Linked DNA regions of Homo sapiens. The protein of the gene in region 2 purifies or fractionates together with the protein of the main gene of each other region. This does not show direct contact. Each region holds a gene or a part of one and is shown on either strand. Other genes may lie near its edges.

Region 1 (4,110 bases), on a different chromosome or scaffold from region 2:
GAATTTGGGGCCTAGGAACCGAGGGCACACGGGACTCTAGCCTCATCCCCAGGACCCCCTTGGCTCAGAGTGTGGTGCTAGAAACTGGCCCCCAGCCCAGCCCCAGTACTGCCACCTTTACACCTACCCCTGCAAGTCCCCAGAGGGCTGCCCACGATAGAAGCTGCCAAGCAGGGAGAACCTGTGCCAACTGTGGAGTGGGGAGGTTGGGCCTGGACCCTCAACCCCTGCAACCTTCCCTAGCCCCCTCAATAGATGAGCAGGTCAGGCTGTGGCCCTTACCTCACCCGCAGTTCTCGCCCAGTGCTGCAGCCGGCTCACCTCTCTCCGCTTCTTGCACATCACTGGCCTGTGTGTGCTGCTTGCTCCTGTTCTGTTCGCTTGCTCCCGTTCCGTTCGGCTTTTGCTTTGCGTTAGGGTGAAGACCCTAGCGTCCAGCTCCCCTCAACGCTATATTTTGACACTAAAAAAGAAGGTTTCTAAATTGTAGGAGCAGGATGGAAATACTTTGCTGCCCTTGCCATCTTTTAGGATGGGCCCCCAGGAGACTGAGGTCTTCCTGGGCCCTCATTGCTGCTTATCGTACCCCCCATCACCTGCACATGGGACAGACCGGGCTGGAGGGTGACCTTGGCTGTGTGCGTCCCAGCAAAAGAGCTCTGGCCCGCATCTCGCTGTGCCCTGAAGGGGGATGAAGGGCGATGCCTCGCCCGAGGCTTTGGGCTGCTGCACTGCATGCTGGGACTGCTCCTACTCTCTGTCCCACCCCTCACCCAGCTGTGGTCCGGCTTTGGGAGAGTGGTGAATTGCGCTGCCCGAACTCGGAGCGGAGCAGGGTAGGGACCGTGTACAGCTTGATAACCCTTAATAAAAAGGGAGTTTGACCAGACTTCTTGTTGTCTCGCGCGGCTAGAATCCTGGGAACAAGAGAAATGGGATGGGGACTCTGCCGGGGTCTAGAAGAAAGTATGTTTAGGCCGTCGCTCAGATACGCTGAGCAAGGCGGCTGGCGGAAGGGCAGCTTCCGACCCACAGTTCCGTGGAGGTCTGTGTCCTGCCCCGAGCCAGGATTCCGTGAGGTCTGTTTCCAGCCCCGAGCCACGATTCCGTGGAGGTTTCCAGCTCGGCCTGGTCGTCAGATTTCCCGCCCTGGGCACGTGACCAAGCCGGCTCTGCTTCTCTAATTTGCATTCGTTGCCTGCACCATTCCCCCCGCTCCCCCCTCGGAGACATTTGGCCAATGGGAGCCGTGGGTAGGGGCTGTGGGCGGGGCTACAGCCGTGGAGCGCGGTGCGAGTCCAACACCGAGCATTCCCGTGGGCCTGCAGTTGGCAGGAGGGTCCCGGGCCCAGAGCCAGCGGGGCCGTGCTGAGACGGCGTACGTGCCCTGCGTGAGTGCGTGGCGGCGGCGCGTGCGCTAGGGGAGTGGGCGGTGAGGCCTGGTCCACGTGCGTCCCTTCCCGGGACCCCCGCAGCTTGGCGCCCAGCGGCTACGTGAGCCAAGGCACCCGGATGTCCGCGCCCCTCTCCGAGTGACCAGTCCCGGCCTCCGGTCCCGCAGTGCCCGCAGCCTCGGCCGGCGTCCACGCATTGCCATGGTGACTGTGGGCAACTACTGCGAGGCCGAAGGGCCCGTGGGTCCGGCCTGGATGCAGGATGGCCTGAGTCCCTGCTTCTTCTTCACGCTCGTGCCCTCGACGCGGATGGCTCTGGGGACTCTGGCCTTGGTGCTGGCTCTTCCCTGCAGACGCCGGGAGCGGCCCGCTGGTGCTGATTCGCTGTCTTGGGGGGCCGGCCCTCGCATCTCTCCCTACGTGCTGCAGCTGCTTCTGGCCACACTTCAGGCGGCGCTGCCCCTGGCCGGCCTGGCTGGCCGGGTGGGCACTGCCCGGGGGGCCCCACTGCCAAGCTATCTACTTCTGGCCTCCGTGCTGGAGAGTCTGGCCGGCGCCTGTGGCCTGTGGCTGCTTGTCGTGGAGCGGAGCCAGGCACGGCAGCGTCTGGCAATGGGCATCTGGATCAAGTTCAGGCACAGCCCTGGTCTCCTGCTCCTCTGGACTGTGGCGTTTGCAGCTGAGAACTTGGCCCTGGTGTCTTGGAACAGCCCACAGTGGTGGTGGGCAAGGGCAGACTTGGGCCAGCAGGTGAGGGACTCTGTGGGAAGGGGGAAGCCTCTGCTGGCCGGGCTTGGGAGAAAGCACTGCATGTCCAGTCACACTGCTTCCAGGCTTTAGGATGCCTCTAAGCAAAGGGAGAAGGGAGGGGCTGAGTCCTGCCGGGAGCTGATAGCCAGCTGGTGGGGTGTGTCTTTGCTGAGTCACTGTGGTTTTGCTTTTTTTTTTTTTTTTAAGCCTGTAAGTGCTGAATGTGTTCATGACACCAGTCCCCGGCCCTATTATAAGTAGTAATACAATGAAATTTTATCCTCAATGATACTCTCTCCACTTATATTTCATTCTAGGTTCAGTTTAGCCTGTGGGTGCTGCGGTATGTGGTCTCTGGAGGGCTGTTTGTCCTGGGTCTCTGGGCCCCTGGACTTCGTCCCCAGTCCTATACATTGCAGGTTCATGAAGAGGACCAAGATGTGGAAAGGAGCCAGGTACACCTCAGTTTCTTTTTTTTTTTGGAGACGGAGTCTTGCTCTGTCACCAGGCTGGAGTGCAGTGGCGTGATCTCAGCTCACTGCAACCTCCACCTCCCGGGTTCAAGCGATTCTCCTGCCTCAGCCTCCTGAGTAGCTGGGACTACAGGTGCATGACACCACACCCAGCTAAGTTTTGTATTTTTAGTAGAGACAGGGTTTCACAGCATTGGCCAGGATGGTCTCGATCTCTTGACCTCGTGATCCGCCTGCCTCAGCCTCCCAAAGTGCTAGGATTACAGGCGTGAGCCACTGCGCCTGGCCTCTTTTTGTTTTTAAGACGGAATCTTGCTCCGTCACCCAGGCTGGAGTGTAGTGGCGCGATCTCAGCTCACTGCACCCTCTGCCTCCTGGGTTCAAACAATTCTCGTGCCTCAGCCTCCCAAGTAGCTGGGATTACAGGTGTGTACCCGGCTAATTTTTGTATTTTTAGTGGAGATGGGGTTTCACCATGTTGGCCAGGCTAGTCTTGAACTCCTGACCTCAGGTGACCCACCTGCCTCGGACTCCCAAAGTGCTGGGATTACAGGCATGAGCCACTGCACCAGACCCCACCTCAGTTTCTGAATCCTGGAGTCTCTTCATTTCATTCCCTGTCATCATTCCTTCCCCCAAAATGAAATGCTTCTTTTCCAAATCTCAGTTTGCAACTTAGTTTTTCTGACCCCATCAAGGATCACTTGTGGGTCTGAGATACCTGGGAGCTGTAACCCCATAGGTTTTTCCCTGAAGGGTTTCTGGCTAGTGCACTTACTTGATTTCTGAGCTCCCTTCCTACGTGTTTCACCATCCTAGGTTCGGTCAGCAGCCCAACAGTCTACCTGGCGAGATTTTGGCAGGAAGCTCCGCCTCCTGAGTGGCTACCTGTGGCCTCGAGGGAGTCCAGCTCTGCAGCTGGTGGTGCTCATCTGCCTGGGGCTCATGGGTTTGGAACGGGCACTCAATGTGTTGGTGCCTATATTCTATAGGAACATTGGTGAGCAGGAGGAGCACCAGCTCAGTGTGCTGGTCCTTCATCAGCCTGGTGGCTGGGATGGTCCTTACCTAGGGAGGTGGGACAGAGCTGGGTGGTCAGAAAGAGACTGTGGCTGGTACCTGGGGCCATTTTGCCTGAAGAGAGTCCTGGGCGCCATAAGTGGGTTCTGACTCGTTTCCTCCACAGTGAACTTGCTGACTGAGAAGGCACCTTGGAACTCTCTGGCCTGGACTGTTACCAGTTACGTCTTCCTCAAGTTCCTCCAGGGGGGTGGCACTGGCAGTACAGGTATGAGAGACTCCGCCCTCACCCTGCTAGGTATAGGTCCCTCCCACAGGCATTCCCTCAGCATCCGCCTCTCCCAGCATTCCTCCCCAGCCCCCATGTACTCTCAGACCTTTCACATCCTGGTGCTGGGCTGACGTCCCTCAGCTCCCAGGCCCTACTGAGGCGTCCCCCGGCTCCCTGCAGGCTTCGTGAGCAACCTGCGCAC
Region 2 (3,955 bases):
TCTTGGTTACTCTTTCCTGGTGTTGTAAAGGTGTCATATTTCAGTTGCCTTTATTATTATATGCAGTAGGAATGAATGGCAACAAATTATTGGTTTAAAGATTTTGACTTGAGTATTAATAGACTTACAAAATCTATGTGTACTTGTTCACAATGAGTTGTAGGATCTTATCTGTTTTTTTCTCTTAAAGCTGATCTTGAATTAATGAATAAACTCATGAAAGGTCTTTTGATGCCCCCTTGCATAACAGTCACCATTCTGATTTTCTGAAGAGAAGCATGTCCTAACTACTAAATGACCTGTAGGGGAAGATTTAGAGAAAAAGCAAAAGGTTGATATCAAGTTCACATTCTCTTGACTTTAGTCAATGAGATTAGGCTCCAAAACCCTTTAAGAGATCTTTCGCATTTTAGTGCTCCATTGTTGCTTTGGGATAGTGTGAAATTTGGAGGCTTCAACTAAACATTTTACATTAAAGTGCTTTACTTTTGCTAGAGTAAAACTTTCCAGAATCTATTCCTGAGATTTGTTTTAACATGTTATGGAAATGAGAGCAGTTATGTGAAAAGTTATCACATTCAAGCATCAAGGAACCAAACAATAACGCTCTCCATATTTATGATGAATTCTAACTTTCATCAGATTTATGAATAAGACAATTTATATAAATGAAATATTGTTTGGTATTAGACATATTTTAGTTTCTTATCCTTTGTTAAATACAAATTCCTAACTTTCTCTAAAATCTTACGATGGAGTGCTTGTGAAGGTTAAAAGTTATTGAAACAGCGGAATTGTAAGCTATATAAGGGGAGGGGTGCTGTATATTATTCTGTATATCATTTTCCATGATAAAGTGTAGGTTCTGGCCTACTGTATTTGAAAGATTTCTACTTTGAAGCAGAAAACATTTTTAAGCTACAGCGTAATAAAATTGTTGATGTTTTGTTACTAATATCATGTATATTAACTAAACCCGCATTTATAAATGATCCGTGAAAAATAACCCAAAGTCGAAACATTAGAATTAAGAGTGACCCAGGAAGTGGCTAAACCGAAAAGAACCTCAGGATCTTTCTTGTACTTACATAATCAGTCACATGATGTCGCTCTACACTCAGAAGGTGAAACAGGAAAATTTTTTTCTCCGCACCCACATTCCAATCATTCACGGAATAGGATCGACTCCATAATGACTGTGATGCTGGAAAAAATTTACTAAATATGTACTTACAGAAAAGGGTGACTGCTCATAAAATACCTCAGGCAAGCGATCCCTTAAAACTGATTGTCCCAACTCAGAGGCCCTCATTTTCTGCAATGGTGATTATCGGACCAAGAGGCCCGGGATCCCAGCGTCTGCTGCTCTCGCTTCTGCTCCTTGCAGCCTGGGAGGTGGGGAGCGGCCAGCTCCACTACTCCGTCTACGAGGAGGCCAAACACGGCACCTTCGTGGGCCGCATCGCTCAGGACCTGGGGCTGGAGCTGGCGGAGCTGGTGCCGCGCCTGTTCCGGGTGGCGTCCAAAAGACACGGGGACCTTCTGGAGGTAAATCTGCAGAATGGCATTTTGTTTGTGAATTCTCGGATCGACCGCGAGAAGCTGTGCGGGCGGAGCGCGGAGTGCAGTATCCACCTGGAGGTGATCGTGGACAGGCCGCTGCAGGTTTTCCATGTGGACGTGGAGGTGAAGGACATTAACGACAACCCGCCGGTGTTCAGAGAAAGGGAACAAAAGGTACCTGTTTCTGAATCTGCGCCTCTGGACTCTCATTTTCCTCTAGAGGGCGCTTCTGATGCGGATATCGGCGTAAACTCTCTTTTGACCTATGCGTTAAGTCTAAATGAGAATTTTGAGCTTAAAATAAAAACAAAAAAAGATAAAAGTATATTGCCTGAATTAGTTCTTCGGAAGTTATTGGACAGAGAGCAAACGCCAAAACTCAATTTATTGCTGATGGTAATCGATGGCGGTAAACCAGAACTAACAGGGTCTGTCCAGATTCAAATAACCGTCCTGGATGTGAATGACAATGGTCCGGCGTTTGATAAGCCCAGCTATAAAGTAGTGTTGTCTGAAAATGTCCAAAACGACACAAGAGTGATCCAACTAAATGCTTCCGATCCAGACGAAGGACTTAATGGAGAAATTTCCTATGGGATCAAAATGATTTTGCCAGTGAGTGAGAAATGTATGTTTTCAATAAATCCAGACACAGGTGAAATTAGAATTTATGGTGAACTGGATTTTGAAGAGAATAATGCCTATGAAATTCAGGTTAACGCCATTGATAAAGGGATTCCTTCCATGGCAGGTCACAGCATGGTCCTGGTGGAAGTTCTGGACGTGAATGACAATGTCCCTGAAGTAATGGTTACTTCACTGTCGCTCCCTGTGCAAGAGGATGCTCAGGTGGGTACCGTCATTGCCCTGATTAGCGTGTCGGATCGTGACTCTGGAGCCAATGGACAGGTCATCTGCTCACTGACACCTCATGTTCCCTTCAAGCTGGTGTCCACCTACAAGAATTACTACTCGTTGGTGCTGGACAGCGCCCTGGACCGCGAGAGCGTGTCGGCCTATGAGCTGGTGGTGACTGCGCGGGATGGGGGCTCGCCTTCGCTGTGGGCCACGGCTAGAGTGTCCGTGGAGGTGGCCGACGTGAACGACAATGCGCCTGCGTTCGCGCAGCCCGAGTACACAGTGTTCGTGAAGGAGAACAACCCGCCGGGCTGCCACATCTTCACGGTGTCGGCATGGGACGCGGACGCGCAGAAGAACGCGCTGGTGTCCTACTCGCTGGTGGAGCGGCGGGTGGGCGAGCACGCACTGTCGAGCTACGTGTCGGTGCACGCGGAGAGCGGCAAGGTGTACGCGCTGCAGCCGCTAGACCACGAGGAGCTGGAGCTGCTGCAGTTCCAGGTGAGCGCGCGCGACGCCGGCGTGCCGCCTCTGGGCAGCAACGTGACGCTGCAGGTGTTCGTGCTGGACGAGAACGACAACGCGCCGGCACTGCTGGCGACTCCGGCTGGCAGCGCAGGAGGCGCAGTTAGCGAGTTGGTACCGCGGTCGGTGGGTGCGGGCCACGTGGTGGCGAAAGTGCGCGCGGTGGACGCTGACTCCGGCTATAACGCTTGGCTGTCCTACGAGTTGCAACCGGCGGCGGTCGGCGCGCACATCCCGTTCCACGTGGGGCTGTACACTGGCGAGATCAGCACGACACGCATCCTGGATGAGGCGGACGCTCCGCGCCACCGCCTGCTGGTGCTGGTGAAGGACCACGGTGAGCCCGCGCTGACGTCCACGGCCACGGTGCTGGTGTCGCTGGTGGAGAACGGCCAGGCCCCAAAGACGTCGTCGCGGGCCTCAGTGGGCGCTGTGGATCCCGAAGCGGCTCTGGTGGATATTAACGTGTACCTCATCATCGCCATCTGTGCGGTGTCCAGCCTGCTGGTGCTCACGCTGCTGCTGTACACTGCGCTGCGTTGCTCAGCGCCGCCCACCGTGAGCCGGTGCGCGCCGGGCAAGCCCACGCTGGTGTGCTCCAGCGCCGTGGGGAGTTGGTCTTACTCGCAGCAGAGGAGGCAGAGGGTGTGCTCTGCAGAGAGCCCGCCCAAGACGGACCTCATGGCCTTCAGCCCAAGCCTTCAGCTGTCTCGAGAAGATTGTTTAAATCCTCCCAGTGAAGTAAGTTATTAATATTATTTAGATATATTTGTTTCCTTGAAGAACTTCCGTTTAGGTTATAACTACATTCTCTCATTTTTCTTTATGATTCTATCCTTTAAACTATCGAATGTCTCATCTTTCTTGGTCATTCTTACTCATTTTGAACTTTTATGTATTTGTCTAACATTAATGAAGGAAATATGTAGGTACAATGGAGGCCATGGAGCACCACACTTAATATTTTTCTTTTTCTATAATATTTTATATGACTGATGAACCTTGAAAA
Region 3 (3,500 bases), on a different chromosome or scaffold from region 2:
CACACAATCCCCTCCTCTCACACAATCCCCTCCTCTCACAGAACCCCCTCCTCTCACGGAACCCCCTCCTCTCACAGAACCCCCTCCTCTCACGGAACCCCCTCCTCTCACGGAACCCCCTTCTCTCACGGAACCCCCTCCTCTCACAGAACCCCCTCCTCTCACGGAACCCCCTCCTCTCACGGAACCCCCTCCTCTCACAGAACCCCCCCTCACACAATCCCCTCCTCTCACGGAACCCCCTCCTCTCACAGAACCCCCTCCTCTCACGGAACCCCCTCCTCTCACACAGTCCCCTTCTCTCACAGAACCCCCTCCTCTCACAGAACCCCCTCCTCTCACAGAACCCCCTCCTCTCACACAGTCCCCTCCTCTCAGAGAACCCCCTCCTGTCACACAGTCCCCTCCTCTCACAGAACCCCCTCCTCTCACACAGAACCCCCTCCTCTCACACAGAACCCCCTCTTCTCACACAGAACCCCCTCCTCTCACGGAACCCCCTCCTCTCACAGAACCCCCTCCTCTCACACAGAACCCCCTCCTCTCACAGAACCCCCTCCTCTCACGGAACCCCCTCCTCTCACGGAACCCCCTCCTCTCACGGAACGCCCTCCTCTCACACAGAACCCCCTCCTCTCACCGAATCCCATCTCAGTCTTGAGTTTTCCCTCGACTCTGTTGCTTCCGCTCACATCTTAGTGAGTCCCCAGGGCCTCTGCGGGGCATGGAATCACACGTGCAGTGTTCCGGCATGTTCAGCCTGGTGTGTGACAGTGGGGTTCCCTGCCAGGCCAGCAGTGTGCTCTGACTCGGGGCAGGGACCAGGTTCTGTGTAGCTTTGTGCTCAAGTGCTGAGCAGAGTAGACTCTCAGCAGATGTTTGAATGAATGGGTGAACCAATGGCTGCACAAATGAACGAGCCTGACTCTCCCTCATGATTTGGTCCATAGTGTGTTTAAATACCCTCCTAGTGGGCTTTTAGCTCCTTGAAGATGGAAACAGGTTTGCATAGTAAGTTTGTTTTATTGAATGGAATGGACTTAAAGTCTTCGGACTTGGGAGAATTAGGACAGATCTGTTTCCCCGTTGGTAAAGTAAAGGTTGGGCCTGATGATCTCAGAAACTCAGGAAGAGTGATGGTCGGCCCCAGGGTCGAGAGTGAGTTACTGCCAGGTCCAGGGCTGTCCCTGTGTTCTGGCTCCCAGACCACAGTGTTTCTTCCTGAAGCCGGTGGTTGCAGCCACTTTGCCTTGCTCCTCTACGCCTTTCCTGAAGGATGAGGTGGGGCCAGTCTGCCTCTGGGAGCTCGGTCAAGTTCACCCGCCTGCCTGCCTGTCCAGTGAGTAACTAAGCCACCCACCATGGAAGCTTTCATTCAGGGTGCTTTGGAGGGGTTGGCCTGGGGCTGCAGCTCTGTGCTTCATGACCTCGGGTCTCCGGGAGCCTTGCCCCTCGGCAGCCGTTTCCAGGGCCCATCTCTGTGGGCCCACAGGGAGTGGCCTGCTAACCGGGTGCCTGCTTTGCCCACAGGCCAAGTACCTGGCCCAGATCATTGTGATGGGCGTGCAGGTGGTGGGCAGGGCCTTTGCACGGGCCTTGCGGCAGGAGTTTGCAGGTAAGCATGGGTCCGTCTCCCCTGTGGGCTGGGAGTTCCTCTCCAGGTCAGATTTTCCCCGTAGCCATGGGCACCTCAGGCCTGGCGGTTCTGAAGTGTGCGTGGCCTGAGGCACTTCCCATGGTGGGGGGTGATGCCAGACCGGGGCATTCTTCAGTGGTACCTGGTTAGCAAGAGCATCCAGGGCAGGAGCTGGCACACTGGCCCATCTGGATACCTGATTTTGTAAACTTGTTTTTTCTTTTTTTGGAGATGGAGTCTCACTCTGTCGCCCAGGCTGGAATGCAGTGGGGCAATCTTGGCTCACTGCAACCTCTGCCTCCTGGTTCAAGTGATTCTCCTCCCTCAGCCTCCTGAGTAGCTGGGAATACAAGCACCCGACACCATACCAGGCTAATTTTTGTATTTTTAGTAGAGACGGGGTTTCACTATGTTGGCCATGCTGGTCTGGAACGCCTGACTTCAGGTGATCCGCCTGCCTCAAAGTGCTGGGATTACAGGTGTGAGCCACAGCGCCCGGCCCTGGTTTTGTAAATAAATCTTTTTTTTTTGAGACGGAGTTTTCGCTCTTGTTGCCCAGGCTGGAGTGCAATAGTGCGATCTTGGCTCACTGCAACCTCTGCCTCCCGGGTTCAAGCAATTCTTCTGCCTCAGCCTCCTGAGTAGCTGGGACTACAGGCATGCGCCACCATGCCCGGCTAATTTTGTATTTTTAGTAGAGACGGGGTTTCTCCGTGTTGGTCAGGCTGGTCTTGAACTCCCAACCTCACGTGATATGCCCACCTCGGCCTCCTGAAGTACTGGGATTACAGGCGTGAGCCACCGCACCCAGCCCTTTTGTTTTCTTTTGAGACGGAGTCTCACTGTGTTGCCCAGGCTGGAGTGCAATGGTGCGATCTTGGCTCACTGCAACCTCTGCCTCCCGGGTTCAAGCAATGCTCCTGCCTCAGCCTCTCCAGTAGCTGGGACTACAGGCATGTGCCACCACACCCAGCTGATTTTTGTATTTTTAGTAATTTTGTATTTTACAGGTTTTCATCATTTTGGCCAGGATGGTCTCGATCTCTTGACCTCGTGATCTGCCCTCCTTGGCCTCCCAAAGTGCTGGGATTACAGGCGTGAGCCACTGTGCCCGGCCGACAGGCTGCTTTCAAGGCAGAGTTGAATGGTTCCAGTGTAGGCTCATTAGCCCGCAAAGCCTAAAATAGCTACTCTCTGAGCCTTTAGGAAAAGTTTAGCAGCTCCTGATTCTAGGTTCTGGGGTCACTGAAAGGGGAGAGGTCACCCAAGGCAGTGGCTTTGGTGGTCTAGGTGACAGGTGGGCAGCTGGGCCCCTGCAGAGCCCTCTCATGCCCGCAGCCCCACTATACAGTCTCCATCGTAGCCTAAAGCTCCCCAATTTGCTGTTCCCCTGGGATATGGGGGTTGGGGGACAGGGTCATCTCATGGTCTAGGTTGGGGACCAGGAGCCAGGATTAGCGGTCAGATCCTGCCCTTACCCTCCAGTGAGGCACGTCTGTCCTCACTTTCCCAGCCTCTACCCCCTAAAAAGGAAACCACTCCTGGAGAAGAGGCAGCTCCTAGCCACCTGTCCCTGTGTCTCTCATCCTGTGCTGGTGGCAGGGGTGAGCCACCAACTCGGAAGGCCCAGGGTGAAGTGTGGGCTGCTGAGGACTGAGCGATCACCCACATGTCCACACAGCCAGCCGGGCCGCAGCTGATGCCCGAGGACGCGCTGGACACCGGTCTGCAGCCGCTTCCAACCTCTCCGGCCTCAGCCTCCAGGAGGCACAGCAGATTCTCAACGTGTCCAAGCTGAGCCCTGAGGAGGTCCAGAAGGTGAGGCCACTGGGCCACCCCAAAGTTTGAGAGGGAGAGGCTGCCA
Region 4 (3,500 bases), on a different chromosome or scaffold from region 2:
TTTAAATGAAGCAGCAGAGACAATACTCAAATTGCAAGAGGTTAAAGATTCAGGCCCTTCTGCCCCAATCCCTCCTTTCCTCACTGATGAGGTAATTTTTAGGAGAAGGAACCTCCGAACTTACTTATGTACTGAAAAGAGGGAGCCTGTGTAGATAGAATGAAAATGAAAGGGGCTGGGCGCATTGGCTCAGCCTGTTATCCCAGCACTTTGGGAGGCCAAGGCGGGTGGATCACCTGAGGTCAGGAGTTTGAGACCGGCCTGGCCAACATGATGAAACCCCATCTCTACTAAAAATACAAAAAATTAGCCAGGCATGGTGGCGGGTGCCTGTAATCCGAGCTACTCGGGAGGCTGAGGCAGGAGAATCACTTGAACCTGGGAGGCGGAGGTTGCAGTGAGCTGAGATCGTGACACTGCACTCCAGCCTGGGCAACAAGAGCGAAACTCCGTCTCAAAAAAAAAAAGAAAAGGAAAATGAAAGGAACAGGTGATGAGGTGAAGGTAGTTAGAGAAGATCCACTTAGCAAACAGGAGGATCATTTCTTTCTCATAAATTGCAGTGAAAACAGGAATTTTGGCTTGAAGAGCATACATGATCACCAAACAGAATTGCCTAGGAAGAGATAGAGCCCAGTTTTGGGGTCTGCCTTGTAGTGTGGACTTAAGATAGTGTGGAATGTTTGAGAAACCTTGAATAAGTTGATAGTCAACAGGAGATAAATACGCAGTTTATAAAAGTTTTTTCTAAATGCTCTTAAAAAAAGATAAAAACCCAGAGAATATTAATTAGTTCAGTAATAATAGACCGGTAATTCTGTTTGTTTCAAGGAGTATTAGGGGAACAGATTTGAATTAACCAAGCGTTTACTATGAACAGCTGTGAAGAACTGCAGTACTGGCAAAACTTTTAAAAAGGAGGAGGTGTGGAATTATCTTTATTTTTGCATGTTGTCTTTTGATACTCAAGAAGCAATCCGAGATTCACCAGTTCATTGATACTTTTCTCTTGATGGAATTTTCAAGTTTCATTCTAAGTGCTTACTCTGCATATCAAGCATGTGAATGAGTGAATAAGCTATTTATTTTCTTTAAAAGTTAGCTAAAATAAACTTGTTTTTCTGGTACCAATCTCGTTGTCCATGTTCTTCTGCTAAACATTACATTAGTTGATATTTAAGTGGGATGGTCATTGCAGAAAGTTGGGAAGAAAGTCTCATCACCTCACTGTTAGATTTTACATATGTTTATGTAATTTTGTGAATTACCAGTCTTCTGACTTCAACACAAATAGCAAATTGCAAAGTGTTACTTGGGGTTCTTGGGATGGGTTGGGAAGACATTCTGACAATCTCAGAAGTTCTAAAGAACTAGTTTTATCTTAACTATCACTAATTTGCAAAGTACATGTTCCTTTTTCCTCTGGCTCTAATTCCTCTCTAACAAAAGTATTTCTAAATTTGACATTAATCTCTGGTGCTTCTTCAATTTGTGCATCTGCAAACTGATTTTTTTATTAAATGAGATAACATGAAAATATTTGCAAATATAAGATGATATAATTTCTCTTTTTTTCCTCTGTCGTTTTACAAAGTGATCTGATGTGAAACAAAGGTACAGAAATCTAGTCTTCCTCAGACTTTCAGATTTATAATCATTTTTTTGTTTGTTTTTTTAACTACTAGGACCCTTGAATAGTAGCATATCAGAATACCATGTTGAAAGGAAGCTCAGTCATATAGTCCTATTCCTATTCACTCACCCAACTCCAGACTTTTAAAGTTAACTAACAGTCACCTTTAAGGAAGAATTTACACAGAACTTTCAAAGCAAGTAATAAGCCAAAATAAATATACTTCAGGCAAGTAATGAACTATCCTTTGTGTCTGCAATTGTCTTTAGCTTAATTGATGCCAGGACTGTGCTTAGACTATGTGGACAGGGATGGGAGATTGCTTTTTATCTGATCTCAGGTCCCTGCATTCATAGGCATCTTCCAGATTGCAGAGAGGACCTGTCTTTATCAGTTGCTGTGAGCTGTAGCTTCAGCGTGTCTCTTTACTCCCTAAACATTGCCTGATAACTCCATTTGCTTTTCTCCTTTTTTGTAAGAGGGGAACTTCTTATACATTTTTATTACAAATTGTTTTAAAATACAAAGGAGAAAACTTGTAAGTTGCAGAGCTAAATGTGAGGGGAGGAGATAAATTTGTGTGTTTAATTCCATTCTATTTGTAAATGACCATTTTGATTAAAAGTCTTTCATAGGGCCGGGCGTGGTGGCTCACGCCTGTAATCACAGCACTTTGGGAGGCCAAGGCAGGCGGATCACCTGAGGTCAGGAGTTCAAGACCAGCCTGGCCAACATTGTGAAACCCTGTCTCTACTAAAAATACAAAAATTAGCCAGGCATGGTGGCACACGTCTGTAGTCCCAGCTACTCAGGAGGCTGAGGCAGGATAATCAATTGAACCCGGGATGCAGAGTTTGCTGTGAACCAAGATCATGCCACTGCACTCCAGCCTGGGTGACAGAGTGAGACTCTGCCTCAAAAAAAAAAAAAAAAAATTATAGAATAAAGTAGAAAAGGTACTTTCAAAAATGTTTTAATGTAACAGGAAAAGGATATCTGTTACGCTTATGTTAAACCTGTACCACTGAAAACTTAGATTGTATGTCTTTAAGGTCTAGCTGATATGCCAAAGTTATAAAGTATAGTTGGTAATTTTTGATATATTTGTTATGATTTGGGGCATGGCTAGTCTTGTCATATGTTTAAGTAAAGGAGGTTTGACTTGAAGATTTACTTAGTAGGTGAGGACCAGGAAGTATAGTCTAATCAGTACTACTTTGTTTCTAAACAAGAACATATGCCTCCTTTAGTGAGGGCACAAGTTTGGGCAAAGGATTCTCAGCTACGCCAAAAAAACAGGTTCAACCAAATCACATTTATAGTTTTGTGAAATAACGCCCTCTCCCCAACCCCCAGAAAGGATATTTGAAATTTTAAAATAAGCAGTTGTTAATGTAGAAACTATTTAATCCATACAATGTTCTCCTATCACCTGCTTGTCTTCTTTCACATCGGAAACTTCCACAGGAAATAAAAGTTCCTTTAAAATGATTTTATGAAGAAATTTAGCATACACTTATCAGAATTTGATAAACTTAACTGTAAATAGGCAGGTGTTCTGGGTAACTTAAGTCAGCACAGTTTTTCTTTTTTTATTGCGTATTCATTGTGGCATAAAGTCATTTCTCCTGGATTGAGGACATAATCAGAGCAATTACAGGATGAACGACATCTATGAGATTTCTGAGAGGAATAAAAAGCTGCACGTTTTAGTAATATAGTAGTTGCCACTTATGCAAACTTACAGTTAACAGAATAATGAGTTAAAAACCTGAATTTCTGCTCCTGTTCAAAATTTTGTATTTGGTGCATAACCTTAGGTAAATCACATCTTTTCCCATCTTCTCAGCCTTTTTGGTGGTGATTG
Region 5 (3,500 bases), on a different chromosome or scaffold from region 2:
TATGCTGTGAATGGGGGAATATGCCAGGGCACCAGTAGCCTGTGAGGGCAAGAGGAGCTCAGTAGGGATCAGTTTCTGCTCAGCGCCTGGGCTGGGCCCTGAGGTGTTGGCGTTGAGATGGGAATGGGCTGTGCAAAGAAAGCACCCCAGGCTCCTGTACCAAACGACTCAGACTGGTTGTATCTGCAAATTGAAGGCCTGTAGGAATGTAGGTGGGACCAAAGGTGGTCTCTAGAGTGCCTAGAGTTAGGGCCAGGAGCCAAGCAGGGCGGGGATCATATTGTTGCAGGGACATAGTTCATCCCATTACTTACTTATGGAATCCCATCGCTTAAGACTGATGAACATAGCATTTTGTCCTGAGACAGACAGATTGAGCACAGCAAATGCCAACAGGAAGCCAGTAAAACGGGCCTCACATCAGACAGGTTCACCTCAGATGAGCTTAGAACTCCTTGTTGCCAATGGGGGGAGGTGGGTTTAACTATCCAAATTGGAAACAGAACCTGAGATAAAGAATTTAACAAAAAAATGCATACAGCATCAATCATTTGAAACATAAGTAAATCTGCAGAAAACATATCATAGTCTGGGTAAACCCCTTCCCTGCAAAAAGACCAACGCTAAGATTCAAGATCTAGGCAGTTAAAATCTGGAATATAATGATTGTGGAACTCTGGAATTTTCCTGAGTTCTGGACAAGGACCGGAAGCTCCTGCAGGTGCTGAGGCAGGGTGGGGAGGACAGGACACACACGCAGAAGCAGCGCGCACAAACCCCAGGAACGCACCAGGGCCAGGGTGCCCAGAGGTACAGGATAGACGTGGCTCATCTTCCCAGAAGCCTGTTTTGCTCAGGATTAGTGAAAAGTAGGAAGTTGTAAGTGCTCACCATTAGTTTAATAACAACTTTGCTTTGCAGAGTGGAGGAGGGAGGAAGCTACCTTAACAGCACACACTGAACTCGAGCCCGATGCTAATTTCAAAAAGATTAAACCATTGAATACATTTACATCCTAGGATTAAGAAAAGTAATTTGAAACATTTTAATATTAAAACAGACATGGATGAAGATAGAGAGTAGAATGGCTGTTGCCAGTGCAGCGGGGGATGGGGAGTTGTTTAATGAGGACAGCTTCAGTTTGGGGAGGTGAAAAAGTTCAGGAGATGGATGGTGATGATGGTTTTACAACAATGTGGATATACTTCATGCCCTTGAACTGTACACTTATCATGGTTAAAATGGTAAATTTTATGTCATTAAACTTTTTCTTTCTTTCTTTCTTTTTTTTTTTGAGACAGGATCTCTTGCTCTCTCACCCAGGCTGGAGTGCAGTGGTGCAATCATGGCTCAGTGCAGCCTCGACCTCCCGGGGTCAAGCCATCCTTCGGCCTCAGCCTCCTGAGTAGCTGGGAGTACAGGAGCGTGCCACCACACCTGGTTAATATTTGTATTTTTTGTAGAGACAGGGTCTCACTATGTTACCCAGGCTGGTCTCAAACTCCTGAGCTTGAGTGATCTGCCCTCCTCAGCCTCCCACAGTTCTAAGACCACAGCTGTGAGCAGCCATGCCTGGCCGTGAATCTTTTATCACAATTTTTAAAAAAGAAATGTATGAAGGCATAGGAAACAATTTTCTATAATTTTAAGACGTAAAATATGAGATTTTCAGTCCATTCTGCTCAGGATCACATTCCCTCTCCCCATATTAGTGGAAAAGTTGGAGAATCCACAGTTAAGGAGGCCTCAGGATCTTTTGCACAGAGCAGTCCTTTTAGCCATAAATTACTTAGTAGTTCCCAGAGTTTATTTATAACTCTGAACAATGCCTTCCCTACACCACCATTTTTGCTAACAATGAGATCAGGAGTCTCAAACGCAAGGAAAAGAAGAATGGAATGGAGTGGGTGGGTCTAGGCGGGGCTGGGGCTCGGGGGAGGCCTTCAGCTCCCGTCACCAGGAGGCCCAGAGGGGAAGGGTGAGAGAGGCAGATAGCTTGGGGCTCTGACAGAAGGACAGGGTCCTCTTGAGGTTGCTGTAAGCATCAAAGGGGCTCATGTGTGTAGGAGGCAGGTCACAGGCTTTGCCCATCACATGTCAGACGCGAGAGGACATGGGATGAGTGTGTACTAGGTGGCCGTGGCTTTATATGTTAGTATCTCAAGCCTCATCACAAGCATCTTCGTTTTACAGACGACCACACAGCGGCTCTGAAAGGTTGGGTAACTTGTCTAAGGTCATGTGGCTCACAAGTCATGGAGCCAGAATTTGCATATGGGGTAGCCTGGCTCCATCTCAGCCCCGGAAGAGGCACTGAGCCCTGGTGTGCCTTCCCAAACAGGCAGCTGAGTGCTCCCAGGAAGACGGTGTTGGGCCGCTCAGCCCTCTGACTCACACCTCAGAGCAGCCTGGGGCCCTCCCATCCTCTCCAAGTTTCCCTGCCCAGCCCCACCCTGGGCCCCAGTGTGTCCCCGAAGCACCAGCCAAGGAACAGCTGCCCAGTGTACATTCTCTGTTCCGTCCACTCACCACTCTCCATTTTCCTATGCACTCTGGTCTTTAGGATTCAAGAAGGGTAAGATTAGCAACCTTCAGCCTGGGAAGTTGCCCCTGACTTCTCTCTGGGCTGTTAACTGACTGGTGCTAACCTTGAGGGGCAGAAGATGGGTTTTCCGTGACACTTCTGGGATACACAGTGGCCTGATGGCCTGGTCTCACTGTGGCTCTGCTGATTTTTGGCAGTGAGCGCGGGGAGGCAGTTTCACTGAGTTGACCTACTGTGTACTGGGTTATCATAGTGCGATGCTGAGTAAGACAAGCTCCTGGCCCGCACCAGGTTCACCAACTAATACAGGAAAGTGACAAGGAGGCAAGCCATTAGAAGGCAGCACATGAGTGGTGGCACGCACCAGCAGTCCCAGCTACTTCGGAGGCTGAGGTGGGAGCATCGCTTGAGCCCAGAGGTTCAAGGCCAGCCTGGACAACGTAGTGAGATCCTGTCTCTTAAAAAATAAAAAAGAGAGGCTGGGTGCAGTGGCTTATACCTGTAATCCTAGCACTTTGGGAGGCCGAGGTGGGTGAATCATCTGAGGTCAGGAGTTCAAGACCAGCCTGGCCAACATGGTGAAACCCCATCTCTACTAAATTGGGCGTCATGGCAGGTGCCTGTAATCCCAGCTACTTGGGAGGCTGAGACAGGAGAATTCCTTGAACACGGGAGACGGTGGTTGCAGTAAGCCGAGATTGTGCCACTGCACTCCAGCCTAGGTGGCTGAGCAAGACTCCGTCTCAAAAATAAAAATTAAAAAAATAAAAATAAAAAAGAGACAGCTCTATTCTGTGAAAGTTGTGGAAACCAAGGGGAGGGAGGAGCACCTATTTCACCTTGGAGAGGGTCAGCCCAGTGTCCGTTAAAAAAGCCACCTTTAAATCAGTTCTGAAGGATGGAGGAGGTGGCAGCAACAGGACAATCATCACTCTAATTCCCAGGGCTTGTCTTT
Region 6 (3,500 bases), on a different chromosome or scaffold from region 2:
AAGTACCTGGGATTGCAAGTGCATACCACCATGCCCAGCTGATTTTAGTATTTTTAGTAGAGATGGGGTTTCACCATGTTGGCCAGACTGGTCTCAAACTCCTGACCTCAAGTGAATCGCCTGCCTTGGCCTCCCAAAGTGCTGGGATTACAGGTGTGAGCCACCACACCCAGCCTATATATATTTTATTCATCCATTCATCAGTTGATGTACATTTGGGTTGTTTCTACTTTTTAGGTACTTTTGTTTTCTAAGAGGAAGGTTATATGTGGATAATGCGGCTATGAACACTTGCATACAAGTTTCTGTGTGGACATATATTTTCAGTTCTGTTGAGTATGTACCTAGGGGTAGAATTCCTGGGTCATATGGTAACTCTATGTATTAAACTTTTTGAGAAACTGCAAAATTGTTTTCCAAAACAACCATATAATTTTATTTCTGCCAGCAATATATGAGGGTTCCAGTTTATCTGCATCCATGCTAACACTCGTTACTGTTCATTGTTTTGAACATAGTCATCCTAGTAGGTATGAAGTGGTTGTGATTTGCATCTCCCTAATGACCAATGATGTTGAACATGTTTTTCTTTTTCTTTTTTTTTGAGACAGAGTCTTGCCCTGTCGCCCAAGCTGGAGTGCAGTGGCACAATCTTGGCTCACAGCAACCTCCGCCTCCTGGGTTCAAGTGATTCTCCAGCCTCAGCCTCCCGAGTAGCTGGGATTACAGGCGTGTGCCACCACGCCCAGGTAATTTTTGCAGTTTTTCTAGCAGAGATGGGGTTTTACCATGTTGGTCAGGCTGGTCACGAACTTCTGACCTCAAGTGATCAGCCTGCCTCGACCTCCCAAAGTGCTGGGATTACAGGTGTGAGCCACCGTGCCCAGCCTTGAGCATCTTTTTATATACTTTGGCCAGTATTTCTCCTTTGGAGAAATAATCTATTTGAATTCTTTATTCTAGATACCAGTTACTTATTAGATACAGCATTTGAAAATATTGTCTCCCGTCCAGGAATGGTGGCTCACGCCTGTAATCCCAGCACTTTGGGAGGCCGAGGCAGGAGGATCCCTTGAGGTCAGGAGTTCAAGACCAGCCTGGCCAACATGGTGAAACCCTGTTTCTACTAAAAATACAAAAATTAGCTGGGCATGGTGGCACGAGCCTGTAATTCCAGCTACTCAGGACGCTGAGGCAGGAGAATCGCTTGAACCTGGGAGGCAGAGGTTGTAGTGAGCTGAGATTGACCCAGTGCACTCCAGCCTGGGTGACAGAGCAAGACTCCATCTCAAAAAAACAAAAAAGGAAAATAAAATATTGTCTCCCATCCTCCCCTCCCCTCCCCTCTTCCCCTTCTGCAAGGCCTTGCTCTGTTGCTAAGGCTGGAGTGCAGTGATGTGATCTCAGCTCACTGCAGCCTCCACCTCCTAGGCTCAAGTGATCCTCCAATCTTACCCTCTCGAGTAGCTGGGACTACAGGCATACGCCAGCACGCCTGGCTAATTTTTTCTATTTTTTGTAGGGACAGGGTGTCCCTATGTTGTCTAGGCTGGTCTCAAACTCCTGGCTGGGCTCAAATCATCCTCCCACCTTGGCCTCCAAAGTGCTGTGATTACGGGTGTGAGCCACCTGTGCCTGGCTGAGCATCTAATTAATATGCATCAGACATAGTCCTAAGTACTTTTAGTGTATTCTTTCAGCTAATCCTGAAATAGTAATACAATATGGCTGTGGGTATTAGATCCATTTTTAAATGATGAAACTGGGCTCAGGGAAATTAAGTTTCTCACATAAGACTGCATCTAATGCCAAGCTCAATGGTCTTTTTATTGTGCTTTTTAGGGTACATCCAAATAACTGATGTTTACTTGGGAAATAAATTTGTATTAAATTGGAATTCATTTAAAACATTGGTTCATTTTCAGAATGGAAAACCTATGAAAAGTTATGAGGAGATTTTTAAAAATAATTGAATCAAACATCAGTAGTTTCAGATTAACCACAATTTAAGTGATTGAATTAAAACAATTATTTTTATTTGGAGGAAGAGAAAAAAATCAGAACATTTGGATAACTGATGTCGGCATTTTGTCTTTGCCTGTCAACACTGCAAATAAACATTCATTTTGAGAAAGACAACTTCTCATTTTCTTTTTAATTTATTAAAAAATTTTGGCCAGGCACAGTGGCTCACACCTGTAATTCCAGCACTTTGGGAGGCCGAGGCGGGCGGATCATGAGGTCAGGAGATCGAGACCATCCTGGCTAACACAGTGAAACGCCGTCTCTACTAAAAATACAAAAAAAAAAAAAATTAGCTGGGCGTGGTGGCGGCCACCTGTAGTCCCAGCTACTCGGGAGGCTGAGGCAGGAGAATGGCGTGAACCCAGGAGGAGGAGCTTGCAGTGAGCCGAGATCGCGCCATTGCACTCCAGCCTGGGCGACAGAGCGAGACTCTGTCTCAAAAAAAATTAAATAAAATAATAATTTTTTTTTTTGAGACACTCTTGCTGTGTCACCCAGGCTAGAGGACAGTGGCATGATCACAGCTCATGGTAGCCTTGACCTCCTGGACTCATACAATCCTCTTACCTCAGCCTCCTGGGTAGCTGTGACTACCTGGCATATCACTACATCTGACTTTTTTTTTTTTTTTAAATGGAGATGGAGGTCTCACTCTGTTGCTCAGACTGGTCTTGAACTCGTGGCCTCCAGTGGTCTTCCTGACTTGGCTTCCCAGAGTGTTGGGATTACAGGTGTGGGCTACCACACTCAGCTTCTTCTCATTTTCATTTACAATTTTAAAAGTAGGCATGGAGCGTTTGGCCATTTGGATGTTCAAAAGACTTCATTATTTTGTGTTTTTGTGTGTGTTTGCTTCATTTTATAATCATTATTTTTTAACTGTTGCATTATGATTTAATTTCATTGCACAAAAATTTGAAATTGCAACTGCTTTTCTTTTCTTTTCTTTTTTTTTTTTTTTGAGATGGAGTCTCACTCTGTTGCCCAGGCTGGAGTGCAGTGGTGCGATCTCAGCTTACTGCAGCCTCCCCCTCCCGGGTTCAAGCAATTCTTCTACCTCAGCCTTCTGAGTAGCTGGGATTACAGGTGCGTGCCACCATGCCCAGCTAATTTTTGTATTTTTGTAGAGACGGGGGTTTCACGATGTTGGCCAGGCTGGTCTCGAACTCCTGACCTTGTGATCTGCCTGCCTCAGCCTCCCAAAGTGCTGGGATTACAGGCACAAGCCACCATGCCTGGCCCGCTTCTTTTGTTTTCTAAGAGGAAGGTTATGTATACCTCTATATTCAATTCTGCATTGTTATATTTGAACCATATTGTGAACTTTACATTGTGATGGGTCATTTTAGAACTTCCATGTAACACTAAATTGCAATATGGAAACCAGTTTTTAAAACTGAGGAAAGTTTTCATGCTAAAAAACAAAAGCCACTTTTTATGGACAACTTACTTTGGATTACAATGTACCAGGTTGC
Region 7 (4,183 bases), on a different chromosome or scaffold from region 2:
ACTAGATGGTCTGATGAGTTCTTATAATGCCGGACTTCTATGAAGACTTTTCAATATATGTTTTCTAATTTAAATGATTAAATTTTAACATTGCTACTCAGTTAAAGGCAATAATATGAACATCAAGGATCAGATCACACAGTACCTGATTATTAGTGATTACTTTCAAGCAGGAGAATTGAGGATTGTTGCTTTGGAGGGATTTTCATAAAATAAATTAAAAACCTGAAGGGTATGGTGGCGCTTGCCTATAGTCCCAGCTACTCCAGAGGCCAAAGCAGGGGATAGCTTGAGTCCAGGAGTTTGAGACCAGCCTAAGCAACATAGTGAGACCCCATTTCTACAAAAAATTTAAAAATTAGCTGGGTGTAGTGGTGCACGCCTATAGTCCCAGCCACTCCAGAAGCTGAGGCAGGACGATCACTTGAGCCCAGGAGTTCAATCAAGGTTGCGGTGGGCTACGATCACGCCACTGCACTTCAGCGGAGGAGACAGAATGAGACTCTGTCTCAAAAAATACACAAATGAATAAATAATAAAAACCTTCCAAAATCTTGCCAGAATAATACCAACAAATAGTGAAACTTAAAATGTGACTAAATCGACTTTTCAAGTTCACAATGTGCCCATGGCTAATCAATACATATGCACAGTAGAAAGAAAATGAAGTCTAATAATGACCACTCTTGCCTAGACAGGGAACTAAGTGTGCCTGGGCACAGAAGGCAAAATAATTTGGGAAAAGTAAGCAGAAGGAGCAGAGTCGTATGTTGGGAAACTAGAATCCAATACAATTTATCAAAGAGTACTGAAACTTGGAATGTGACCAATTCCACTCAGGCAATAACCAAAGCAGGTCAGATGGGAGCCAAAATATTTTCCATGCTTGAGAAAATCAAGGCTTTTACAATATAAATGAATACTGGGCTGCTGTGGAAGGTTTGTTGGTCTTTGTTGCTTTGTTTTGCTTTCTTTTAACGGGGGTGGGGGGAGGTACCAGTCTCCTTTGAGAATCTGAAGAAAGCAAAGGATTCTCCTAAAAAAATGTACATAGTCACAAGATTTTGAGGAAAAATAAGACATGTCCAACCCTCCGGAAATCCATTCAGAGTCAGGAACCCCTAATTTAAAAATAAGGGATAACTGCCAGGAAAGGAGAAGCTCTAAACTGAAAACACAACACCTCCAGTAGAGTTAGGAATAGGAGGCGGGTGCTTGGCAGGTGAGTTTGAAGATACTTGTTGAGAGCATACGATATACCAGCATTGTCCAATAAAAATATAATGTGGACCACATATAAAATTTTAGTGGCCACATTATAAAGTAAAAACAGCAGAAATCTTAACATTTTATTAACCCCAAGTACTCAAAATATTACCTTTCCAACATTTAATCCATATAAAATGTATTAATCAAAAAGTTTTTTCAAAATCTGGCGTGTATTGTACACTTACAGCACATTTAGGGTGACCAACCTCCTGGTTTCCCTGGGACGGAGGGGCTAAAACATAGGACTTTCAATGCTAAAACAGACAATCGCAGCAAACCAGGACAACTGGCAATTCTATCATCTCAATTTGACGAGCCACATGCACTACACAGTACTGGACAGCAAAGTCATCCATCATGCATGGTGCAAAGTGGAATATACACATTATTCAATTTATTCTTCATAACTTGCCTAAGAGATGGATGCTGTCAGTTTCCAAATTGCAGAATAAAAGAAATAGAGGTTAAAGCTCTCACCCAAAGTCACACCAATAGGGCGAGGGTACTGGGCAATATAGTAGTAAGCCTGGGGCCTAAGAAATGTTATGAGTGAAGGAGCAGAGGTGAGAAGCTAGGAAAGTTCCAGAAAGGGGGACCAGCGAAAATGTGAGCAGTAAAGGCCCTTTACAAAGGGAAACAGAAGGATTAGGGGGAGAAGGAGAAGGGTGGCAGGGAGTATAGAAGAAAGGCACCCACAAATAGTGCAGTTTAGGAATGAAACAGGAAAAGTTAAAACTCACGGAGCAGAGAATGCCTCAGCGGACAAAAATGATGGGTGACAGAAAAGGGGAGGCGGATAGGAGTAAAGGGCAGTGGGGAGAAAGGTGAAAAGCGAAGGCAAGTGAAGGCAGAGATCACCGGGGAGAAAGAAAGGGCCTGGAAAGTTAAAAGCACTGGCCTAGGAGGCTGAAGACCGAGGGCGAGGAATTGCGGAGAGGGGGAAGAGGATTCAAATTAAATTATCCAGAACGGTAGGGAACTGCGTAGTTTCACCAGGTGTCAGGCACTACTTCATGAACGATCTCATTCATGGTCATGGGGCAGGTATCTGACATCCCCATTTTGCAAGTGATAGCACCAGAGAGGCGGAACCGAGCCGCGAAGGCCGCCCCGAACTGAGCCTCGCGCTCAAGGCAGGCCGTGGCCTGGGCCCAGGTCCCCGGAGGAGGCCGCGCCGCCCGCCGCCGCCGCGGGGGCAGCCAGGCCTACCTGTGCAGCGGCGGCAGGTCCTGCGCGTCGCTGGCGGGGTCAGGCGTGTTGGGGATGACGCCCAGGATGGTGCTTTGCAGCGACGTGCCCTTCAGAAGGCGGCTCCGCACCAGCTGCAGGTTGCGGGCCGAGTCCACGCTGGTGCGCATGGTGGAGCCGGGCAGCAGGACGCCCTCGTGGGTGAGCAGCAGCGGGAGGCGACTGGGGATCTGGATGGGGCTCACTGATGACATGCTGGCAGCCTTTCGCACTGGGGGCTGTCAAAAAGAGCCAGACAGACAGCTGCCCCCGGCCTGCCCCGCAGTCACCAAACCTCAGACCCGCCTCCACGCCTCCGCTTCCGGCTACGCGCTACGGTCCGTCCCCGGGCCCAAAAGCCATGGCTTCGCGCTGCTCTCTAGGAGAGCCTCCCGGTAAGACTTGAGCGTCCTACCTATGCGGAAAGACGTGCACTCAAGCGTGCAGCGACCTTCGCCTCACTTACAGAGTATATTTGGAAGGATGATCTTATTTGAATTGTATATACTTGAAGTGTTTTTAACGTTTTCTTCGATTTTTTACATATACTTGAAGTGTTTTTAACTTTTGATTCGAACTAATTATTTATTTATTTATTTATTTATTTATTCTGAGACAGATTCTCGCTCTGTCGCGGAGGCTGGAGTGCAATGGCGCGATACCCACGGCTTGCAGCCTCTGCCTCCCGGGTTCAAGCGATTCTCCTGCCTCAGCCTCCCGAGTAGCTGGGATTACAGATGCCCGCCACCACACCCAGCTAATTGTTGTATTTTTAGTAGGGAGGGGATTTCACCATGTTGGCCAGGCTGGTCTTTAACTCCTGACCTCAAGCGATCCGTCCACCTCGGCCTCCCAAAGTGCTGGGATTACAGGCGTGAGCCAACGTGCCCGGCCCGAATTGATTTTAGATGTACAAAACTACAGCAGAGTTCCTATATACCTTTCACCCAGTTTCGTCTGTTATCATCTTACATAATCATAGTTCAATGATCAAAACCAGGAAATTAACATTATTATCGTTTAACCTATAGGCCTTACCCAAATTTTGCCAGTTTTCCCACTAATGTCCTTCATTGGATCTGGTCCAGGATCCAATATCCAGGATCCTGTTGTGAAATCTCCTAGGTGTTTTGTTATGAAATCTCCTAGGTGTTCTCTAATCTGTGGCAAGTCCTCAATTTTTTTTTTTTTTTTTTTTTTTTGAGACGGAGTCTCGCTCTGTCACCCAGGCTGGAGTGTAGTGGCGAGATCTCGGCTCACTGCAAGCTCCGCCTCCCGGGTTCATGCCATTCTCCTGCTTCAGCCTCCCGAGTAGCTGGGGACTACAGGCACCCGCAACCACGCCCGGCTAATTTTTTGTATTTTTAGTAGAGACGGGGTTTCGCCATGTTAGCCAGGATGGTCTCAATCTCCTGACCTCGTGATCTGCCCGCCTTGGCCTCCCAAAAGTGCTGGGATTACAGGCCTGAGCCACTGCGCCCGTCCAATTTTTTTTTTTTTTACAACCTTGATACTTTTATTTTTTTTCTGTTTTTAATTTAATTTTATTTTTTATTATAGTTTAAGTTCTAGGGTACATGTGCACAACGTACAGGTTTGTTACATATGTATACATGTGCCATGTTGGTTTGCTGCACTCACTAACTCGTCATTTACATTAGGTATATCTCCTAATGGTATCCCTTCC

What was found.
Region 1: the proteins of PCDHA12 (region 2) and ABCB6 purify together in Homo sapiens (affinity purification with mass spectrometry; one large-scale study listed by BioGRID and IntAct). This does not show direct contact.
Region 3: the proteins of PCDHA12 (region 2) and PAM16 purify together in Homo sapiens (affinity purification with mass spectrometry; 2 studies listed by BioGRID and IntAct, with this or other methods). This does not show direct contact.
Region 4: the proteins of PCDHA12 (region 2) and EIF2AK3 purify together in Homo sapiens (affinity purification with mass spectrometry; 2 studies listed by BioGRID and IntAct, with this or other methods). This does not show direct contact.
Region 5: the proteins of PCDHA12 (region 2) and KLRG2 purify together in Homo sapiens (affinity purification with mass spectrometry; 2 studies listed by BioGRID and IntAct, with this or other methods). This does not show direct contact.
Region 6: the proteins of PCDHA12 (region 2) and NEK4 purify together in Homo sapiens (affinity purification with mass spectrometry; 2 studies listed by BioGRID and IntAct, with this or other methods). This does not show direct contact.
Region 7: the proteins of PCDHA12 (region 2) and LONP2 purify together in Homo sapiens (affinity purification with mass spectrometry; 2 studies listed by BioGRID and IntAct, with this or other methods). This does not show direct contact.

The regions. Positions count from the first base shown.
Region 1 is NC_000002.12:219,216,159-219,220,268, reverse strand, and holds the start of ABCB6 (ATP-binding cassette sub-family B member 6), read left to right. Parts: upstream 1-1,310; 5' UTR 1,311-1,595; coding exon 1,596-2,144; intron 2,145-2,461; coding exon 2,462-2,599; intron 2,600-3,436; coding exon 3,437-3,617; intron 3,618-3,803; coding exon 3,804-3,905; intron 3,906-4,088; coding exon 4,089-4,110. UniProt on the Homo sapiens protein: ATP-dependent transporter that catalyzes the transport of a broad-spectrum of porphyrins from the cytoplasm to the extracellular space through the plasma membrane or into the vesicle lumen.
Region 2 is NC_000005.10:140,874,153-140,878,107, forward strand, and holds the start of PCDHA12 (protocadherin alpha-12 isoform 1 precursor), read left to right. Parts: upstream 1-1,155; 5' UTR 1,156-1,320; coding exon 1,321-3,687; coding exon of another isoform or gene 3,688-3,699; exon of another isoform or gene 3,700-3,737; intron 3,738-3,955. UniProt on the Homo sapiens protein: Potential calcium-dependent cell-adhesion protein. May be involved in the establishment and maintenance of specific neuronal connections in the brain.
Region 3 is NC_000016.10:4,341,322-4,344,821, reverse strand, and holds part of PAM16 (mitochondrial import inner membrane translocase subunit TIM16), read left to right. Parts: intron 1-1,530; coding exon 1,531-1,615; intron 1,616-3,317; coding exon 3,318-3,454; intron 3,455-3,500. Other genes in the region: CORO7-PAM16 protein, read left to right, coding at 1,531-1,615, 3,318-3,454. UniProt on the Homo sapiens protein: Regulates ATP-dependent protein translocation into the mitochondrial matrix. Inhibits DNAJC19 stimulation of HSPA9/Mortalin ATPase activity.
Region 4 is NC_000002.12:88,620,965-88,624,464, reverse strand, and holds part of EIF2AK3 (eukaryotic translation initiation factor 2-alpha kinase 3 isoform 1 precursor), read left to right. Parts: intron 1-3,500. UniProt on the Homo sapiens protein: Metabolic-stress sensing protein kinase that phosphorylates the alpha subunit of eukaryotic translation initiation factor 2 (EIF2S1/eIF-2-alpha) in response to various stress, such as unfolded protein response (UPR).
Region 5 is NC_000007.14:139,456,174-139,459,673, reverse strand, and holds part of KLRG2 (killer cell lectin-like receptor subfamily G member 2), read left to right. Parts: intron 1-3,500.
Region 6 is NC_000003.12:52,746,941-52,750,440, reverse strand, and holds part of NEK4 (serine/threonine-protein kinase Nek4), read left to right. Parts: intron 1-611; coding exon 612-749; intron 750-3,500. UniProt on the Homo sapiens protein: Protein kinase that seems to act exclusively upon threonine residues. Required for normal entry into proliferative arrest after a limited number of cell divisions, also called replicative senescence.
Region 7 is NC_000016.10:48,242,917-48,247,099, reverse strand, and holds the start of LONP2 (lon protease homolog 2, peroxisomal), read right to left. Parts: upstream 2,801-4,183; 5' UTR 2,712-2,800; coding exon 2,479-2,711; intron 2,241-2,478; exon of another isoform or gene 2,097-2,240; intron 1-2,096. UniProt on the Homo sapiens protein: ATP-dependent serine protease that mediates the selective degradation of misfolded and unassembled polypeptides in the peroxisomal matrix.